Linked DNA regions of Homo sapiens. The protein of the gene in region 2 purifies or fractionates together with the protein of the main gene of each other region. This does not show direct contact. Each region holds a gene or a part of one and is shown on either strand. Other genes may lie near its edges.

Region 1 (8,852 bases), on a different chromosome or scaffold from region 2:
ACGGCTGAGTGGGAGAGAAGGGCTGGGCTGTGGGATCCTTCCCCGAAGCTCCCTATTCTCTGTGTGCTGCCAGTGCCCCAACTGTGCAGACTGCCCCCAGTCTAGGCACCTGTAACTCTGTCCTCTCTTGACATGAAACCTTGGAATGGAGGGGAAACTGTGACACTCCCTTGGCCGAGGGGAGAGGGATTCTCAATAACTGCTTCTTGAAGAGACTTCAACCAGCGCTCCTGTTTTCATAACCCGCTTTCCTGCCCCCACTCCTGTAAGTGCGCAAGGTCACTAAGGCCCGAACCTTTGGGTGATTCCGTAACAGTGTACACTCGGTCACCTTCCAGTATTTCCATGATGTCTTAGCATTTGTTTTTCTCTCATGCTGTTAGGCACTGATCATTCATCAGCTTTCTGGCTTCTGAAACCTTGTTGCTGTCATCCTCTTCTTGTTTCCTTTGTCCTTGTGGGATTATGCTTTAAAAAAAAAAAAAAAAAAGAAGATCTCTGCTTTTGTTGTAGTAGATTTCAGAAATATCATCATCAATACGCATCTTTAACTAGAACATAAGCATTTCATTTCCTTCTGGGGTGACTCCACTCCGGCTTCTCCATGACTTCCATCACTTTTTTTTTTTTTTTTTTTTTGAGGCTGAGTCTCACTCTGTCGCCCAGGCTGGAGTGCACTGGCACAGTCTTGGCTCACTACAACCTCTGCCTCCTGAGTTCGAGCGATTCTCCTGCCCTGGCCTCGTAAGTAGCTGGGACTGCAGGCGCCCGCCACCACACCCGGCTAATTTTTGTATTTTTAGTAGAGAGGGGGTCTTGCCATGTTGGCCAGGCTAATCTTGAACTCCTGATCTCAGGTGATCCGCCCGCCTCAGCCTCCCAAAGTACTGGGATGACAGGTGTGAGCCACCACGCCCGGCCCGACTTCCGACACTTTTAACTCCTGTTATCTGTTATCTTTTCAAACACCTTGCTTGTCACCAGATTGTGTCAACCATCTCACATTCCCCAGTAGTTTACTTTGACTATTTGGGACCCTGATTTAAATCATTATTTGTGTGTGTGTGTGTGTGTGTGTGTGTGTGTGTGTGTGTATTTTTTGAGACAGGGTCTCGCTCTTTCCACGTTGGAGTGCAGTGGTGCAATCCTAGCTCAGTGCACCCTCAAACTCCTGGGCTCCCACCTTAGCCTGCCAAGTTGCTGGAATTATAGATGCAAGCCACTGCACCCAGCTCATATTTTAAATGAAATAAATAGTACTGAAAGAAAGTAATGTCAAAAAAAAGTTACTTTTTTACAGAAAGAGATTTACTCACCAGGTAGGCCTCAAACGATTAAACCAAGTTGTTTTAAAACAAAATTATAAAATAAATAAAAGACCCAGTGGGGTTATGTAAGCCCATCATTTTGGGAAGTTGACAGTGGTATTTTTGTCCATTTAATATTAAATTTGAATAACATTTAGTAAATGTTTTTAGTTAGTAATTCTTAGTGACTGCAGTTATGTTCATTATTTTAGTCAACTTAATACATTTTATAATAACTCTTCCAAGTGTATTATTTGACTAATGCAATTGGCTGGCACACGTTGAAGACATCAGAGGTTGCACAATGAGACCAGAGTTAAGTGGTGAAAAATTCAGAAGTACATTTGTATCTGACCCTGAAATGTCTTGGTAGTAGAAGCACTTGATGTTTTGGAAATTTTAAAAATTAACTTTTAGCAAAATAGTGTGAGCCACATTGGGAGTGCCAGTTCTAAGAGAGGGCACCTTGAGCTCTTTCTTCTCCTGCCATTTATCTAGGCCATGGACCTTGAAGGTCTTTTCTGCTCCAGTGTATCTAAAGAATAAGATCCACATCCTTCAGTAGCAGCAGCTCATTAAAGCGGCAAGTTTCCTAGGGGGAAATAAGTCAGCATCTGAGGGCTGTGAGGGGAAATAGTTTGAGCAGGACTAAAGAAGCAATGCTAGGTCTTAGGTATTAAGAAAGAGAGCAGAGCCTTTTTCTTCTTCTCCTTTTTGTTTAAGTAACTTCTAAAATCAAAATATACCATTCATATAGAAAAACATGCTGATCATAAGCACAAGCAGGCACCTCACTGAATTTTCACAAAATGACCACACCTGTGTAACCAGCACCCAAATCAACAGCAAGCAGAGAGCACCTAGAAGCCACCCTCACGCGCCTCAGCCTCTGCCATGACTCCTCCCACCAGGGGTAGCTCTACCTGGGTTTGAACTGTATGTAATACAGTCTTGTGTCTGGCTTTTTTTTCTGAACATCAGCTTTTGGCGAGGCTCCGTGGCTCATGCCTATAATCCCAGCACTTAGGAGGCCAAGGCAGGAGGATCGCTTCAGGCCAAGAGTTTGGGACCAGCCTGGATAATATAGTGAGACCCTGTCTCTACAAAAAATTTAAAAATTAGCCAGACATGGTGGCACACACCTGCAGTCCCAGCTACTCAGGAGACTGAAGTGAGACCCTGTCTAAAAAAAACTGATGTTCTGGGTTTTTTGTGGGGTGGGGATCTCACTTCATCACCCAGGTTGGAGTGCAGTGGTGCAATCTCGGCTCACTGCAACCTCTGCCTCCCTGGCTCAAGCAATCCTCTGACTTCAGCCTCCCGATGAGCTAGGAACACAGGTGTGTGCCACCACACCTGGCTAATTTTTTCTATTTTTGGTAGAGACAGGGTTTTGCCATGTTGCCTAGGGTGGTCTCGAACTTATGAGCTCAGGCGATCCGCCCGCCTTGGCCTCCCAAAGTGCTGGGATTACAGGTGTGAGCCACTGCACCCAGCTAACATCAGCTTTTGAATCCTGTTTCAGTGTCCTGGTTCAGACACTGATTAAGACTGATTATAAGAAAATAGACAAGGTAAGCCTGCTTGTCTTATTTTGGTGCTATTCCAAAATGCAGATGGTCCTTGAGCAGGGACATTGGTTAAATGTTTGACTTTCGCAGAGCCTCCTAGTTACAAGCAGAATTAGACCAGATAGAGTATGAAATGTCAACAAAGCTAGTTATTAAGTGATATTGACTGCAGTGTACTTCAAAGCAAGGTAAGCCTTCCCATAGATAATTGGATAGATTATACGTACTAAACTGTTATTTTTTGCAAGTACTGAGCCTAGGTACTACAGAAATGAGATGGGTGGAACATACTTAACTATCTAACCTGGGCAAACATCTCATCTATGAATCGTATCCATTGGGTTACTGATTCCACAAATCTGGCTCATTTTAATGATGAGTCTCAGATAATTTTGTAGTTTGAAACACAGATTACTCCAGAATCACAGTCCTTTATGGCCCAAGTGCTATATCTGATGGAATAGTTATCTCTGAATGGAGGTTGGTGTTTATAGAACATTCTGTATATGGTAAAAGGAATTTAAGGAGATTTAAAAGAAAGAATGTTCTGTATAAACTGTAAGTGGAAATGTTTGTATTTCCCTTGGTAAGCAAATTGGGCTGTGTATATTCTTTGTTTGTGATCTAATCCAGCAAGGCCAATTACCAGAATAGAGCTTTAGGGCATAGCATGACTAATCAGCTTAATTAGGCCTGCTTTTCTAAACACCAGGCTTCCAGGGGTGGCCACTATGGACTCCTGCAAAAGAGTCTTTAATACATTTCCAGACTACCCAAGGGTACATTTTACCTTTGTTTTTTTTTTTTCAAGATAGTTTGATAAGACTCCAAAATGTGATGATGTAACTATTTCCCAGTGAATCCCTCCTTAATTTATAACCTGAGAGCCTACATTTTTTGTCCTTGCTTTTATCTGTTTTAGTTGCTCTTACTATCCTTAGTGGCATCATTGGTTAAGTTAACGTAAATATTCATCTCAACCTGTGTGGTATGTAAAAACTAGTTCCAATGCAGAACTCCAGGAATCTCAATTAAAGGAGCTTGTCACACACGTTCTCTGGCATCAGTGGTGTTTGAGAAATCTTTAGCATATGAACTTTGTCATAAATGACAGTGTATATTGTGTCACTGCTACTGTCCCAAAGTGTTCATGGTAGCACTAGAATAACAGATAAAAATGAAGTGTTTTCGAGCCAATGACTTGCTGTGATTCTATGGGTAAGCTCCTCTACCTCTCTGAGTCTCAGATTCTTGAGCTGGAAAAGGACAGTGACAACAATACCTGCCTTGTAGGGTTGTGACACTAACTAAGGTAACACGTGTAAAAGCATTTAACACAGTGCCTGCCACAGAATAGGCATTCAGCACATATCAGCTATTAGTAATACTTTTAGCCATCCCTTTTATTTCCTCTCTCAGGATGAAATTGATTCTGCAGTAAAGATGTTGGTGTCATTAAAAATGAGCTACAAAGCTGCCGCGGGGGAGGATTACAAGGCTGACTGTCCTCCAGGGAACCCAGCACCTACCAGTAATCATGGCCCAGATGCCACAGAAGCTGAAGAGGATTTTGTGGACCCATGGACAGTACAGACAAGCAGTGCAAAAGGCATAGACTACGATAAGCTCATTGGTACGTCCTCTGCTTTCTTCCCAGAAAAAGCTGCAACTTTTAGAAGTGGTCCCATTGAGTTGATTCCATTGATGTTTTTAAATTTTGAATTAATCATAAATTCAGTGAAGCTTCAATGCCAAGAAAAAATGGATACTAAAATCTTTTGGTTGTGCATTATATTCCCAAAGGATTATTTTAAAATAAAATAACAATATAAAATATATTTCAAAATAATGATCTATAGTAGACAGCTTAATAGAAGGTTTTCCCTTTTTTTGAGCACTTCAGAACTTGGGAAAGGTCTATTGAAATGGCCATTTATAACATTTAGTGGCTACAAGTCAATCATAGATTACTTAGGTTTCACCTCCAGTGATACTGACTATGGACCTAGAAGGCTGGAAGTCAGCTTAAGAGCAGTGACTTCTCACATCGGGCAAGTTCTTACTGTCATGCCCTTCCTTGAGGGCCTTCCTGCTCAGGAAAGACTGTTGCCATTCCATTGAAGTCTTTACTCTGAGATCATTGCTAATTATCAGAGAAGAAACAGAACTGAAATGTTTTCATCTAAGTCAAAGCCATTTTCCATGATTTCAGTATAGACTATCAATGAGGGAAAATTCACTTGAAGACCGACATTAATTCAGTTCAACAAATAAAGAATGTGAGAAATCATGGTTGTCAATGAATATAAATTTTACCTTAATAAACAAATATATATATATATACCTATTTATATATGTATATGTTTATATTTTGTTGTCAAAAGTTGCTAGCTGGACTGCATTCTGAATATGTTTCCCATCAGAACCCAGTCTCAGGCAAAACAGCATTTTGTGTTGTAATTTATTTCCTGTTTTGTTGGTTGTGTTGATCTCAGCTGTTGTTTTAATCCAAAGACCTTTTACTTCATGTTGGGGGTAAGGACCTTTAGCAGAAGGCCTAAAGAGGTTTGTGTTCATTAAGATTGTGCATGGATCACTCACTTTTCATCTTCATTTCAGTAATATCTGATCACTAAACCTCCTGCCACCTAAGAAAGTCATCTTTTCTTTTTTTCCAGTTCGGTTTGGAAGTAGTAAAATTGACAAAGAGCTAATAAACCGAATAGAGAGAGCCACCGGCCAAAGACCACACCACTTCCTGCGCAGAGGCATCTTCTTCTCACACAGGTCAGGGGCTCTTCACCACAGGCCTTCTCACCTGTCCTCTTCTTTTAGTTCAAAAAAATCGTAAGACACTCTCTTCATAAGCCACCTGGTACTGTGGGAAAAGTGATGGCCAGCTGTGGTAAGACTGAGATCCATCCTCTGTCCTGTCAGTAACCCACTGTGGGATCATGCTTGTCCATCACCCTCAGGCTCTTAGTTTTTTCATTTGTAGACTGCCCACCTCACAAGGTGGGAATCATATTAATAGCAGGTGAGATTCTTCCCAGATTACAGGCTGTAAAGAAATTATAAAATGTCATGAAAACAAAAGAGAATAATATGTCCAAGATCAGCATTTCCCACATGACAAACAGTAGGCTTCCTGAAATTCCAAACCCTCTTCCTCCTATTGTATTGACTTGCTCATAAACAATACCAACAGACAAACCAACAGAGAATGCATGGAACAGATTATCTGTACCTTAGGCCGTAAATTCCACGCAGATAACGTCAAGATATGGGCAGGTTCCAAAAGAGTTTCTGCCTCTCCCAACCTACAGTTATCTGGGCTGAGGCAGCCCCCTTTTTGAAGCTGTGTCCATGGAATTTATGATCTGATGTAGGGTTGTTCTGTTCTACTGGCACTTCACGCTTACAGGAGAACAACCCCAGGACAGAGCCCAGCAGTCTGCCCAAACACTTCAAATTCTACCTGCAAAGAACTCCAGGCCTTGCTCAACCCACTTTCTGGGTGGAATATAATAAAAAATTTTCCTTAATTCACATACTATAAAACTTATTTTTTTAAATGTACAGTTAAGTGGGTTTTAGTATATTCACAAGGTTGTGAGACCATCAAGACTATCTAATTCCAAAACATTTCATCACCCCAAAAGGAAACTTCTACCCATTAACCCATTTATGCCAGAAGTTGTAAAAATTTTTTGTGAAAAATCAGACCTTGGCAATCACCTTGAGCAGTAAGATATCAATAACTCCCACAAGTTTAGCATTCCAATTTTGGAACAGTAGGTAGGCATAAATGGGTTAACAGTCATCCCCCATTTCTCCCTCCCCACTGGCAACCATTAGTCTGCTTTCTCTATATCTAGATTTAGGCATTTTATATAAATGGGATCATGTAACATGTGGCCTTTTGTGTCTGGCTTCTTTTACTTGGCATAACATTTTCAAGGTTCCTCCATGTTGTAGCATGTATCCATACTGGATTCCTTTTTATTGCCAAATAATATTCCATTGAATGGATATACCTCACATTTTGTTTATTCATTCATTAGTTGATGGACGTTTGAGTTATTTTCACTTTTTGGTTATCAACAATGCTGCTCTGACCATTTGTATACAAGTTTTTGGGTGGATATATGTTTTCAATTCTCTTGGGCATATACCTCGAAATAGAATTAATGGCTTATATAGTAATTCCATGTTTAACTCTTTGAGGAACTGACAGACTTTTCTACAGCAACTGTATCATTTTACTTTCCCACCAGCAACATAGGAAGCTTCCCATTTCTCCACATCTTCACCCACTCTTGTTATTTTCCATGTTGTTGTGTTTTATAGCCATCCTAATAGGTGTGAAGTAGTATTTCATTGTGGTTTTGATTGTATTTCCCTAATGACAAGGATGTTGAGAATCTTTTCATGTGCTTATTAACAATTTTTATATCTTTAGAGAAATGTCTATTCAGATCCTTTGCCTACTTTTTAATTGGGTTGTCTTTTTATTGTTAGTTATAATAGTTCTTTCTATATTCTGGATACTAGTTTCTTATTCAAATATTACTTGCAAATATTTGCTCCCATTATATAGGTTGTCTCTTCACTCTACTGATAGTCCTTTGAAGTATGAAAGTTTTTAATTTTGATGAAGTCCAGTTTATTTTATCTTTGATTGATTGTGTTTTTGGTGTCATATCTGAGAAACCACTGACTAATCGAAGGTTGTGAAGATTTACACCTATGGTTTCTTCTCAGAGTTTTGTGGTTTTAGCTCTTACATTTCAGTTTCTGATCCTTTTTGAGTTAATTTTTGTATATTTGTGAGGTACAGCTCCAACTTCATTCTTTTGCTTGTGGGTATCCAATTGTCCCAGCACTGTTTTTTGAAAAGACTATTCTTGGCTGGGCGCAGTGGCTCATGTCTGTAATCCCAGCACTTTGGGAGGCCAAGGCAGGCGGATCACGAGGTCAGGAGATTGAGACCATCCTGGCTAACACGGTGAAACCCCATCTCTACTAAAAATACAAAAAATTAGCCAGGTGTGGTGATGGGCGCCTGTAGTCCCAGCTACTCGGGAGGCTGAGGCAGGAGAATGGCATGAACCCGGGAGGCGGAGCTTGCAGTGAGCCGAGATCGCGCCACTGCACTCCAGCCTGGGTGGCAGTGAGACTCCGTCTCAAAAAAAAATAAGAAAATGTGAGTACTCAAACATGGTTCTTTTTCAAGATTGTTTAGGTATTCTGGGCCCCTTGCATTTCCATATGAATTTCAGCTTTTCCATTTCTGCAAAAGCAGCAGCTAGGATTTTGATAGGGATTGCACTGAATCTGTAGATTCATTTGTGGAGTATTGCCATCTTAAAATATTAATTCATCTAATCCATGAACATGGGATGTCTTTTCACTTCTTTGATTTCTTTCATTGATGTTTTGTAATTTTCAGTGTATAGGTTTTGCACTTCTTTGCTTAGATTTATTCATTAGAATTTTATCTTTTTAATGCTATTCTAAATGGCATTTTCTTAATCTCATTTTGATTGTTCATTGCTACTATATAGAAATACAACTGATGGCCGGGCACGGTGGCTTACACCTGTAATCCCAACACTTTGGGAGGCCGAGGCGGGTGGATCACTTGAGGTCAGGAGTTCGAGACCAGCCTGACCAACATGGTGAAACCACATCTCTACTAAAAATACAAAATTGGGCAGGCATGGTGGTGGGCGCCTGTAATCCCAGCTACCCAAGAGGCTAAGGCAGGAGAATCACTTGAACCCAGGAGGCAGAGGTGGCAGTGACCCGAGATCGTGCCATTGCACTCCAGCCCGGGCAAAAAGAGCAAAACTCCCTCTCAAAAAAAAAAAAAATACAATTGATGTTTGTGTATTAATCTTATATCCTGAAATTTTGCTGAGTTTATTAGCGCTAATGCTTTTTTTCTTTTTGCAGATTCGATAGGATTTCC
Region 2 (5,332 bases):
GGTGGTGGGCAAGGACAAGCCCACCTACGACGAGATCTTCTACACGCTGTCCCCTGTCAACGGCAAGATCACGGGCGCCAACGCCAAGAAGGAGATGGTGAAGTCCAAGCTCCCCAACACCGTGCTAGGGAAGATCTGGAAGCTGGCCGACGTGGACAAGGACGGGCTGCTGGACGACGAGGAGTTCGCGCTGGCCAACCACCTCATCAAGGTCAAGCTGGAGGGCCACGAGCTGCCCGCCGACCTGCCCCCGCACCTGGTGCCGCCCTCCAAGCGCAGACATGAGTGATGGCGCCCGGCCCCGCACCTGCCATTTGCACGCCCGGCCGGGAGGCAGAGACGGGGGGAGGGGAAGCCTCACCATTTCTCAAGGTCCATAAAGACTGAGCGGATGTTTCCTCGCCTCTCGAAAAGGAAAACCACCATCTTTCTTTTAAGGCTGTTCCTGGGCCTGGCGGGGGAGGCAGGGGTGAGAGGATGGAATTGTGTGCACAAGAACTGTGGCTATTTTAATATATAACGTTAGAGGCTGCGTTCTTTGTCGCCGCCTCCCCTGTGTGCCAGCCCTGTGTGCACGGCCTCTGCCCCCCGGCCTTTGCTGTGGCTGGAGCTGGACAGTGCAGCGACTGCGACCGTGGGGGAGCCAGGTCGCCCTTTTGGCAGCTGCTAGGCTGAGGCTGCATGGACAGGAACACCAGGCACCCTCCGTGTGCTTCTGAGCTGAGGTTGCTTCACGGGACCGTGGCTTCCTTCCTCACCTGGCTCTGCCTCCCCCGTGCTCTCGGGCGAAGTGGGTTCTTGTGCCTTCCCCTCCCGGGCCCAGGCTCCCCGTGCGCGGGCCCTGCCCTTTCCTCCCGCGCCCCACCGGCTCCGACGCGCAACCCCGCTCAGCAGTCACAGAAGCAGGGCCCAGCCACCTTGGTCTTTTTTTGGGAGTTCAGGGGAGTAGGAGAATGTCTTCCAGAAAAATACATAAGCTAGTTTCTGTTCTGTAAAGTGATATCTTTCATACTTGACCAAAGTTCCCAATAACTTCCCAACCACTGTTCAAAAGCTGTGATTTTTGTCTCCCCTTCCCACCCTCCAGCCAAGGAGCAGCCCTGCCCAGGGGGCATTAGGTGTGGGTACCCGGGGAGCACCCCGTTCCTGGACCCCAGTGTTGCATTTCCTGGCTGAGGAAGGGTGGTCATCCCAGCTCCTGCCCTACCCTCTCACTTAACTGGAGCTTTGGGACGCACCCTCCACAGTGGGAGGTGGTGGTGGGTGGCGGTGGCGGGGCCTCACGACAGCTTGGTGCTGGTAAGAGGAAGCCCGTGGTTCTGGCTAGGCTCTCATGTCCAGACAGCGGGGACCAGGGGAAAACCCAGCCCCTTCTGTAATCCCCCTTCATTTCCTACCTTCCTTCCTCCTCTGTTTAGCAAAGGAGGGCAGCTCACTTGGATGTCCTTACAACGCCCCTGGCCCCCAGGTTGAGCAATAAGAAACCAGAACCTTGCGGCCCAGTGGCCCGGGCCAGTTCAGGCCGCCTCCCCCTCCTCTGCCTGGGGCCATTGAGCCCAGCCTCCAGGGCCCGGGCGCGTTTGCAGGCCAGTGGCCACTGTCCGGGCTGTGATGGCACCAAGGCAGGTGGAGCACCAGGTACCACACAGCTGGGCTTCCCACCAGGCTTTCCCGCGGGGGTCTCAGGGAGCTTCTCCCCAGCGCTGCTCGGAGTCTGCAGGAACTGGCCTTGTTCTCCTTAGCCCGTCACTCCATACAGTATTAGGTGAGGATGGATGCGGGCGCTGTCCTTGCCGGGAAGTCACTGTTGAAGTTGCAGTGGCTTGTTCACACCTGTGGGAAGAGAAGTGAAGACTTTCTCCTTGCATTAAAAAGTCTGAACTGTGCGAAAGCTTCGGGTGCTTCCTTGTCTTTTCCAGGGGCAGCAGTCCTGGGCCATCCTCCCCTGGTGTCTGAGGGGGTGATGCCAGCAGGGACAGAGTGGCAAGGCAGCCGGGGCAAGGTGACCAACCCTGCCCAGTCCTGCTCTGCTGGGCAGTAGCTGCCCCCTCCTACTAAGAGGGCCAGGCCTGTAGGGAAAAGGGTTTCTGGGGTGATGCCCCCTTCCCTGAGCAAGGTGGGAGCTGAGCAGTTCACTTGGGGTGGGGAGGGGGGAAACAGTTGGGAGGATGTTGATAGCTGAGGCCTAGGCTGGCACCCCTCAGCCACAGACGGATGAGTGGGCACCTGCAGGCCCTCGGCACTGGGTGGCATCAAGTAAACAAGGGTTTCTGGGCTTTGGAGCCAGACTGGCTCCTTGCTAGCCCCAAGGACGGTTTAAGTACAGGGAAGCCGGGCCTCTGAAGACAAAGCAGATAGCCTGTGACAAACATGCAACTAAGGGTGGGGCCAGTCAGGCCCAGGTGATGTCACAGATGGGGGACTGTTTATACCAGCAGAGGGAAGGGTGACTGATTAGTGACCCTTCATAAAAGGGTGCAGACTTGAGGTGCCATGGGTAGAGGCTGCTCCAGCCCCTCTGGCAGAAGGCAGGACAGAAACAAGTTCCTGAGGGTTTCAGGGACCCAGTTGTGTGCTCCGAGCCTAGCTGGTGTGGTGGTGTCTGGTCCTATGACCAGCACTTGAGGTGCCAGTGGATGCTTCAGTTGCTGCAGGGCTGGCCGGCCCTCCCTGCGTCACTCAGCTGCCACCTGTGGGCATTCACCCTGTGCCAGGTGGAGCTGCGCTGTCACGATCTGAGGAAGTTCATGTTCCCCCATTTCACAGAGGGAGAGTCCGAGACTGAGGACTGCCGAAATAACAAAGGTGGTAGAAGCAGATGCAAACCAGGCCGTCCAACTCCAGCGTGCTTTCCATCAGGTTACTAATCCAAAGCACACACTAAGAGGAAAAAACGGTAGATCCCCCCAACCCCACCCTTAGACTGCAGCTGTACTCAGGGCTGAGAGACCCACATTAAAGGTTAAATGCTGTCACTCCAGCCTGGGGTCCTGAAAGCTTGGGGCAGGGGTCACCCAAGGGAGGTGGAGCATTTTTGTTCAAGCTGTGAGCACATTAGAGAAGGCACAGAACTTAGCAGTGCCCCTGAACTAGGAGGAAGGGAAGTGCTGCCTGGCCGCCCGCTCTCCTTCCCGGAGCACTCCACCTGCAGGGCTCTGTGTGGCCACAGAGGGGCTGTGAACCCCCTGGGGCTGCCCCAGGAAGCGCCTGCTGATCTGAGGCTTGAAAGGGGCTGAGGGCAGGTGTCTGCCCCAGAGTTCATAGCCCTGGTTTCGGTTCTACAGGTTGGGGATCATCTTTGGGCTCCGACCGGGGTTCAGGGAGGACCAGAGGATGTGGTCAGAGATGTGGCCGCCCACCTAGAGGGCTAGTCCCAGCCCTCGCCTCCTCCCTAGATCCATAGCTGGCCATGACCCTGGGGAAGAAGCCTCCTCTTCAGAGGCTGGCCTGGGGCAAAGGAGGGGCATTGCCACCCAGCTACCAGAGCCCGTGGACTGAGGCCTTCAGGGCAATCTGTCGCCCACGCAGCACCTCACAGCCCAGGACCCAAGAGGCAAAGGGCCCGCCCACTGCCTCTGGCCATGCACAGCTGTTTTCTATGTTGCAGTTCCTTGTAAGATCTCATTCAGAATAAACATTTCTGGCTGGGTTTGGTTCACACCTATAATCCCAGCACTTTGGGAGACCAAGGTTGGGGGTGAGGTGGGGTCGTGTGAGGCCGGGAGTTCAAGACCAGCCTGGGCAACATAGTGAGACCCGCCCCCCCCCCCGCCCCCACACCATCTCTACCAAAACAAAAATTAGCCAAGAGTGGTGATGGGTGTCTGTGGGTAGTCCCAGCTACTTGAGAGGCTGAGGTGGAAGGTTCACTTGAGCCTGGGAGTTTGAGGCTGCAGTGAGCTATGATGGCATCACTGTACTCCAGCCTGGGCAACACAGTGAGACACTGTCTCTATTTAAAAAAAATTTTTTTTAAATAAACATTTCTTCTCCTTAGAAAAGAAGTTAACCACAAATCCAGTCAGTGCCCTGTTCTTATCTCAAATGGGTGTTCTAGAAGAATAGACCAGTAAAAAATAAATAATGGCCGGGTACGGTGGCTCACATCTGTAATCTCAGCAATTTGAGAGGCCGAGGAGAGTGGATCACATAAGGTCAGGAGTTTGAGACCAGCCTGGCCAATACGGTGAAACCCTGTCTCTACTAAAAATACAAAAATTAGCCAGATGTGCTGGCTCTCGCCTATAATGCCAGCTACTTGGGAGGCCAAGGCACAAGAATCGCTTGAACCCAGGAGGCAGAGTTTGCAGTGAGCCAAGATCGCACCATCGCACTGCAGCCTGGGCGTCAGAGCAAGACTACGTCTCAAAAATAAATACATAAAATAAATCAAATGGGCTAGTCATAGGACTTGCCCGGCCACGGCCAGCAAGGTGGTGAGAGTTGGGAGGTGAGAACATCCGGCCACCACTCCTGTGTTAAAAGCGCACCAGGTCTGGCAGCACGTGGAGGGCAGCCTTGGGGAGACCGCCCTGAGTTCAACTCCCAGCTCTGCCACTCTAGCCAGATCTCTTCCCCCACTGAGGCCATTTCCTCAAGCCTTAATTCAGGAACAGATGTGGCCCACAGAGGCAGAGCCCGAGGACACCCACCTTGAGCGGCCTTTGCCAAGCACCCCAAGGAGGTTAGTCGGGTGGGGTGCAGGGAGCAGGGCACCTCACCCAATACCCAGAACAAAACAGGCCAGCCCCTCCCTTCCCTGAAGCAGCTCCCAGACTCAGTGGCGCCTGTAGGCTAGTGAGGTGGTGGCCAAGTGGGCTCGGGCCTGGCTTCCTGTGCACCCAGAGGGACTGATAATTGTAAAACCACATGGGGCTGCAGCCGCTGCAGAGCGTGGGAGCCCCTATGGCTTGTTGGAACACTGCAGGGAAGGTTTTTGGAAGAAAAACCAGGATGATGAAACCACCATATGTCCACCCATTTGGAGCTTTGGACTTTTCATAGGACACGCCCCTGGTGCTGGGCAGATGGGGTTGGGGAGGGGGCTGCCAGGACTAGCTGGGGGACTGGGGGGTCCACACCCCTAGCATTTGCATCAGCTCCTTCCCAAAGCCATCCCAACAGACGCACCTTCAAATAAGAGCCAGGCATCTGAGGCTCAAGGGTGGGCTTAGGGAGCTCCCCGGCTCCAATCACATTGCCGCCCGTGCTCCTTCAGAGAAAGGTTGGGACGGCCATTGGTGGCCATACTGGGAAGCTCATTTGTCTCTCACACCTGAACAGGTGCAGTTCTCCATTATACACAAAAAGACAGCGTCCAGAGAGTGAGGAA

The links. The genes of interacting proteins can lie anywhere in the genome.
Region 1: the proteins of EHD1 (region 2) and WARS1 fractionate together in Homo sapiens (co-fractionation; 2 studies listed by BioGRID). This does not show direct contact.

What each region holds. Positions count from the first base shown.
Region 1 is NC_000014.9:100,357,367-100,366,218, reverse strand, and holds part of WARS1 (tryptophan--tRNA ligase, cytoplasmic), read left to right. Parts: intron 1-4,297; coding exon 4,298-4,511; intron 4,512-5,556; coding exon 5,557-5,665; intron 5,666-8,852. UniProt on the Homo sapiens protein: Catalyzes the attachment of tryptophan to tRNA(Trp) in a two-step reaction: tryptophan is first activated by ATP to form Trp-AMP and then transferred to the acceptor end of the tRNA(Trp).
Region 2 is NC_000011.10:64,849,290-64,854,621, reverse strand, and holds the end of EHD1 (EH domain-containing protein 1), read left to right. Parts: coding exon 1-289; 3' UTR 290-2,980; downstream 2,981-5,332. UniProt on the Homo sapiens protein: ATP- and membrane-binding protein that controls membrane reorganization/tubulation upon ATP hydrolysis. In vitro causes vesiculation of endocytic membranes. Acts in early endocytic membrane fusion and membrane trafficking of recycling endosomes.